2 linked regions of the Homo sapiens genome follow. The protein of the gene in region 1 interacts with the protein of each later gene in a pairwise test. Each region holds a gene or a part of one and is shown on either strand. Other genes may lie near its edges.

Region 1 (3,752 bases):
GAGAAGTCAGTGAAGGCCGGCCACCCTCAGTCACCTGGAATCAGCTGCTGCATTTCTCCATCCGGGGCTTATCTGTCCCTGAGTAAGGATATGGGGAGAAATCAGATGAAAACAGGGAACCAGGGGTCTCTGGGAGAAGTATTGATAGGGAATGACAGGTTTCCTATGGGCAAAGCAGCCTTGAGTCTTTGGGAGGGGGTTGGCTAATGTTGTTAGTAGTTTCCCTGGAGCTAGGCTTACCCTGAAAGATGTACGGACCCTTTTTGGGGAGGCAGGGACATGACTGTGTAATTTTATTCAGTGGGGGCATGCTGACACCCCCACTCAATAAATAAAGGAAGGGAAGTTAGTCCCAGAGATAACATGGTCTCTTTGGCGATGGATCTGATCAGGCAGAGGGATGGGGGGTTCTGTTCTGTTGAAGAGAAATGAGCATCGCTAATATGAACGTGTTCAGAGGCTATTACTCGGTGATTTGTAAATTATTAGAAGGAAGAGAGCTAGAATTTCTGAGACTACAAGAGCCCGCCATCACTTAGAGAGAATGTGGGGCATTTCAAGATGCAGCAATCAGCCAGGCGCCGTGGCTCACGCCTGTAATCCCAGCACTTTGGGAGGCCGAGGCGTGCAGGCCGCTTGAGCCCAGGAGGTCGAGACCCGGCTGGGAAACACAGCAAAACCCCCGTCTACAAAATACACAAAAAGTTAGCTGGGGTTGGTGGAGCAGGCCTGTACCATCCCAGCACTTTGGAAGGCCAAGGTGGGCGGATCGCCTTAGCCCAGGAGCTTGAGACCAGGCTCGCAAACGTAGCAAAACCATCTCTACTAAAAAAAACAAACAAAATTTAGCAGAAGCGGGGTGGTGCGCGCCTGTAGCCCCAAGGCCTAGGCGAGAGGCTCACTTGAGCCCAGGAGGAAAGATTTGAGTGAGCTTTTTTGGTTTTTGTTTTTTCAGACAGGGTCTCGCTCTGTTGCCCAGTCGGGAGTGCACTGGCGTGATCATGGCTCACTGCAACCTCCGCCTCTTAGGTTCAGGCGATCCACCAGCTGTGGCTTCCAAAAGTGCAGGGATTACAAGTGTAAGCCACCACGCCCGGCCCAAATTTCTTAAGTTACTACAGAGTTCCTAGGAAAAATCCCGTACCTGAAAAAGTTAGAAACTGACAGGAAAGATTCGAGATGGCGGCCTGCCTCATATACACTCCTTATTAAAACTAGATAGCAAATGCACCGCGGAGGAGGGGAGGGGTAGGAAGAATGGAAAAAGAAAATCGGCGTATGCTTACTCTGATTTTGGAAGAATCCAAAGAGAAAATCAGACCGTGCGTACTCTGAGTATGGAAGAATCGAAAGAGAGAGAAAGTCAGAGCATGCGTACTCTGAACTTAAAGTAGCCAATCCCAGGGGATGCTTTAGGCGGGAAAATTAGAGTCTCCACCCCCACTTTGAGAAGGTTCCGTCCCTGGAGCCGGGACTGATAGAAGCCACATCCGCTTCGCTTGTTCCGCCTACTGTTCTGACTTCTAATTGGCCAGATGGAGTTCACTAACTGCCCTGATTGGTCCATCATCCTTGGGCAGTGACATAGCAGAATAATGTCTCCTCCTCCAGCCACACTTTGTTGCCACTGCGAAAAAGTGGGTGGTCCTCAGGCGCCGTCAGATTTTGAACTCTCTGAAGACCGTTCCTGGATCTTGGGTTAAAAATCTGGATTCTAGTCTGAACTGTGGGAAGAAAAAAATAGTCAATCTGTGATTTTTCTACTTGAAAGACACGATGTTTTCCAAACTAGCACATTTGCGGAGGTTTGCTATACTTAGTCGTGGCTTTCATTCTTCAGTGGCTTCTATGTCTGTTGCCACTGAAAAAACAGTCCAAGGCCCCGCAACCTCTGCTTACATTTTTGAAAGGGAATCTTAAGTATGGTGCGCACAATTACCATCCTTTACCTGTAGCCCTGAAGAGAGGAAAATGTATTTACTTATGGGATGTGATTGTGGTATTGGTTACATCTGCCTTGGCCAATCCTCCAGCCTCCGTCTTGGGACTACAGGCGCGAACCACCCTACCCCCACTAATATTTTTTATTTTTTGATTTTTTAATAGAGAAGGTTTCGCTGTGTTGGCCAGGCTGGTCTTGACGTCGTGGGCTCAAGCGATCCTCCCACCTCGGCCTCGGGACTACAGGCATTCACCACCCAGCCCACGCTTTTTTTTTTTTTTTTTTTTAAGTAGAAACCAGGTTTTGCTATGTTGGCCAGGCTGGTCTCATCGTCCTGGGCTCAAGGGATCCTTCCGCCATGGCCTCGAGACGACAGGCATGCACCACCCTGCCCACGCTTTTTTTTTTTTTTTTTTTTTTAGTAGAAACCGTGTTTCCCTATGTTGGCCAGGCCGGCATCAAGCTCCTGGACTCAAGGGATCCTCCCATCTCAGGACTACAGCCATGCACCACCCTGCCCAAGCTATTTTTTGTTTTGTTTTGTTTCGTTTTAGTGGAAACCGGGTTTCGATATGTTGCCCAGGCTGGCCTCAACCTCTCAGGCTCAGATGATGCTTCCACCTCGGCCTCAGAACTATAGGCGTGTGCCATTCTACCCCGCTCATTTTTATTTATTTATTTATTTATTTATTTTTTAGGAGAGGCAGGCTTTCGCTTTGTTGGCCAGGCTGGTATCAAACTCCTGGGCTCAAGCAATGCTCCCACCTTGGCCTCAAAACTACAGGAGTGAGCCACCCCGCCCACGCTATTTTTCTGTTGTTCTTGTTGTTAGCAGAAATGGGGTTTCGCTATGTTGGCCAGGCTGGCCTCGACCTCCTAGGCTCAAGCAATCCTCCCGCCTCGGCCTCGGGACTATGGGCTCACACCACCCCGCCCCCACTAATATTTTTAATTTTTCTATTAGAGACAGTTTCGCTATGTTGTCCAGGCTGGGCTCTACCTCTGGGACTCAAGTGATTCTCCCGCCTCGGCCTTGGGACTACAGGCATGCACCACCCTGCCTTTTGCTATGTTTCCCAGGTTGGTCTTGACCTCCTGGGCTCACTCAATGATTTGAACCCGGGAAGTGGAGGTTGCATTGAGCTGAGATCACACCACTGCACTCCAGCTTGGGCGACAGAGCAAGACTGAAAAAGAAAGAAAGAAAGAAAGAAAGAGCGAGAGAGAGACCAGCTGAATCTCCGTAAGAACAGTGAGCTTTGTGGTATTTTTACTTGCCCTCGTCCCATCTCATGCTCCCAGCTTGGTTCTGTTCATTGTTGATGAAATACAGATAGGATTGGCCAGAACTGGTAGATGGCTGGCTGTTGATCATGAAAATGTCAGTCCTGATATAGTCCTCCTTGGAAAGGCCCTTTCTGGAGGTTGATACTCTGTGTCTGCAGTGCTGTGGGACGATGGCATAATGCTGACCATTAAGCCAGGGGAACATGGGTCCACATACGGTGGCAATCCACTAGGCTGCTGAGTGACCATCGCAGCCCTTGAGGTTTTAGAACAAGAAAATCTTGCTGAAAATGCAGAAAAAAAAATGGGTATTATCGTGAGAAGTGAACCCATGAAGCTACCTTTTGATGTTGTAACTGCCATAAGAGGAACAGAATTATTATTATTGCTATTATTTTGAGTCAGAGGTTCATTCTGGTTGCCCAGGTTGGAGTGCAATGGCGCGATCTTGGCTCACTGCAACCTCTGCCTGCTGGGTTCTAGCGATTCTCCTGCCTCAGCCTCCTGAGTAGCTGGGATTACA
Region 2 (3,752 bases), on another chromosome or scaffold:
CAGCTCACTTTCTAGTGGGGAAGACTAATATGCACAGAACTTAGAATATAATAAGTAAATGGGAGGTCACAGGAGTTAGCTAGTAATTTTGATTAGAGGGATCTAGAGAGGCTTCATGAGAGCGGTGTAGAAGTTGTTATTGACATACTTCACTCTGCCCCACTTTTTCTTATCCAAGATTATGTTTATCATATTTTGACCCTCCTAAGATGGAGCCTTGGAACTGATTCAAAGTAAATCAAAACTGGTGCTCCAAAAGCTCCTTGGGCCAAGATGGGGAAGAAGGTCGTAACTTGCTGCACCTGGGTCATGAAGCTAACACTCCCATTCCTTTTGAAACCAACGTTTTTTTGTCCCTGATCAAAGGGACAAGAGCTTCACCCACCTTGCAGCATTCCCAGCACATTCTTATTGCCAATTTAAGGGTCTTTTTGTTCTCTTCTTATCTCATCTGCCCTTTATTCTCTGTTCTTTTCTCTTTTCATTACTTCTCACCCTTTCTTTGCCTATCTGCTTTTCCCATCTACTTTTGCCTTCCATCTCCTTATACCCCATTTATCCCTCAAGCTGGAACCTGATGCTGGCAATATAAGAGACCTCTAATGCCTCTTGGGAAGGGGATGAGGGGATTTTGAGTCCCTATTCTTCCGTTCCAGTTGATTTTGTCACAACAGGCATTGACATAGTTTAACTGGGCAATTGTGAAATTTGACATTTGTTCTATGTTCATATTTAAACGTGTGATGTGATTTTTGTAGGAAATGTATATACTGTTTATAGATGGGCTGTGAAATTTTATCTTGGAATCTTTTTTAGAATGAAATTTTTGGTTCGACGGTGGCATCGAGTCACAGGTTCTGTTTCCATCAATATTAACAGAGATGGCTTTGGACTGAATCAAGGTGAAGTCAAAATAGCATATTTTCTTATGTTTATGACTCTCTAAATCAGAGGTCCCCCACCCCCAGACTATGGACCATACTTGTCTGTGGCCTGTTAGGAACCAGGCCGCACAGCAGCAGGTGAGCAGCGGGCATTACTGCCCGAGCTCCACCTCCTGTCAGATCAGCCGTGGCATTAGATTCTCATAGGAGCACAAATCCTATTGTGAACTGCACATGTGAGGAATCTAGGTTGTGTGCTCCTTATGAGAATCTAACTAATGCCTGATTATCTGGGGTGGAACAGTTTCATCCAGAAACCATTCTGGCCCCTTTGGGTCCATGGAAAAATTGTCTTCCATGAAATGTGTCCCTGGTGCCAAAAAGGTTGGGGACTGCTGCTCTGAATTACTGCATGTGTAATACTTACCAAGTAATGAATTCTGGAAGCAATGTTTTCCAAAGACAAAGCCCTTATAACTGCCAAAACTAGGTAACTTCACTGTTTTAAAGAGGGTAATAATAACTGATTTTCATGGAGAACTTAGTCTGCACCTGGCCATGCTCTTTTCATGTATTCTCCCAATCCTATGATATAAGTACAGTTTTACTACTCTCACTTTTAGATGAAAAATCGAGGCATGGAAAACACAAGTCATTTGCCCCAGAATGGCCAGTAGGGAAGTGATGGAACCAGGACCAAACACTGGCAGTCTGGGTCCAGAGCCCACACTCTTCATAACTGCATTTAAGGCACGGTTCAAGACAGGATTGCTGTTAGTCATATGGAAGAATTAGGAAGTTTTCATAATTTAACAATATTCAAACAAGTTTCTGAGTTTACCAACAGGTTGTATAATAATGGTAACAGCTAAAATTCCTTCTGTCTACACCTAGAAGTGGAAACAAACTAGGGCTTGAACATTTCTGGCAATAAAGATGAGGTCCGAATCTGGGGAGCACACAGAGGACACAGCATCCCTGTGCTGTGTATTCATAGTAAACCACCTTTACATACTCTACCAGGAGCTGAGCATCCTACAGAGGGGAAATAGATTTGGTACCCTACACAAAGTATTTTGAAATATCATTACACTGAAACAGCTGAAATTTGTACCATAATAAGTTGTGTTTTATTAAAAGTTAGCAAATCTTGGTTTCAAGTCAGTAGATTGGAATGGTTACATTGGTCTAATATTTTTTATCCACATCATTTCCCACAAGCCACACCCACTCAGACACCCCTCACCTCTCATCTACTTAGAGCTAAGGTCTTTAAAGAAGAAAATATGCCAATTAAATAATTTTCTTTGAGACATAATTCCAGATATCAGAAATACTCATATTCAAAAGTAAACAAAATAACATTTGAAAGCCGAATTTTTGTTTGTACTGTTTTCTCCTTTATCAAGAATAATAGAAAATGACTATAAATAGGAGATTGTATAATATAGTATAATAGTCTTTTGAGCAGTTACCTATTTTGTAGAAATTTTTTAAGGTCTTGGGATTTTATTTTTCTTTACAAGGAATATTTTGGGTTACTTTAGGTGCAGAAAAGACTGACTCATTTTATCATTCTTCTGGTGGGCTGGAGTTATATGGAGAACCAAGACATACTACGTATCGCTCAAGATCAGATCTGGACTATATTAGGTCCCCTTTACCATTTCAGAATAGGTAAGAATATGAGAAAACCTGCCTGGAATTGTTAAATGTATTAATATTTAACAGAGATAAATGGACATTTTTAGGGCTTTGACTTCTTTGCATTGAGATAGACATCTTTGTTATATATAATTTACATAATATGACCAAGTGCGGTGGCTCACACCTATAATCCCAGCACTTTGGGAGGCTGAGGCGGGCAGATCATGAGGTCAGGAGTTCAAGACCAGCTAGTTGGAGACTAGCCTGGCCAACATGGTGAAACCCTGTCTCTACTAAAAATACAAAAAATTAGCCAGGCGTGGTGGCAGGCGCCTGTGGTCCCAGCTACTTGGGAGGCTGAGGCAGGAGAATGGTGTGAACCCGGGAGGCGGAGCTGGCAGTGAGCTGAGATTGTGCCACTGCACTCTGGCCTGGGCAACGGAGCGAGACTCTGTCTCAAAAAAAAATACAAAAAAATTAGCCAGGCATGGTGGTGGGTGCCTGTAATCCCAGCTACTCAGGAGGCTGAGGCAGGAGAATCGCTTGAACTCAGGAGGTGGAGGTTGCAGTGAGCCGAGGTCACGCCACTGCACTCTAGCCTGGGCAACAAAGCAAGATTTGGTCTCCAAAAAAAAAAAAAAAGAAAAAAAATATACATAACCTAAGGCTTAATGTAAAAATGTAAAAACCAGTGTTTAAATTTGTAACTGATTTCCAAGGGTATAGCAAACAAGCTGACCAAGTGTTATTTAGTGTATGCTATGGTTAGATATTGGGAAAAGTATTGACTAAAATTGATACTCTGATCATTATGAAAAGCTTAACAGTCTTCATGACAAGATACATTTATACATACCCAATTTATTGAGACCTCTGCCACAAGCATTGTATTGGACATTCTTATGTTGACTTAGTAGCATCTTTGAATTCATTGGAGAGTTGTCTCTTTCTCATCCCAAGCTCCAAAGCTGAAGCTTGGAGGAGATACATTATGTGTGTACAAGTGACCCACCTTTTTGGGGAAGGGAGTGGAGGCAGGTTGGTAACTTATATGCATATTTCTGGATAACTTGATTCATGTACATATTTTTAATCCTTTAGGTACCCAGGCACTCCAGCTGATTTCAATCCTGGTTCTTTAGCATGTTCTCAGCTTCAGAATTACGATCCTGACAGAGCCCTAACAGATTATATCACTCGGCTAGAGGCACTGCAAAGACG

Evidence for each region. Proteins that work in one complex are often made in the same cells at the same time.
Region 2: the proteins of SSX2 (region 1) and AKAP9 interact in binary tests that used the Homo sapiens proteins (3 or more experiments, as listed by UniProt).

The regions. Positions count from the first base shown.
Region 1 is NC_000023.11:52,705,826-52,709,577, forward strand, and holds the start of SSX2 (protein SSX2), read right to left. Parts: upstream 1,354-3,752; 5' UTR 1,287-1,353; intron 1-1,286.
Region 2 is NC_000007.14:92,104,862-92,108,613, forward strand, and holds part of AKAP9 (A-kinase anchor protein 9), read left to right. Parts: intron 1-816; coding exon 817-902; intron 903-2,431; coding exon 2,432-2,561; intron 2,562-3,632; coding exon 3,633-3,752. UniProt on the Homo sapiens protein: Scaffolding protein that assembles several protein kinases and phosphatases on the centrosome and Golgi apparatus. Required to maintain the integrity of the Golgi apparatus. Required for microtubule nucleation at the cis-side of the Golgi apparatus.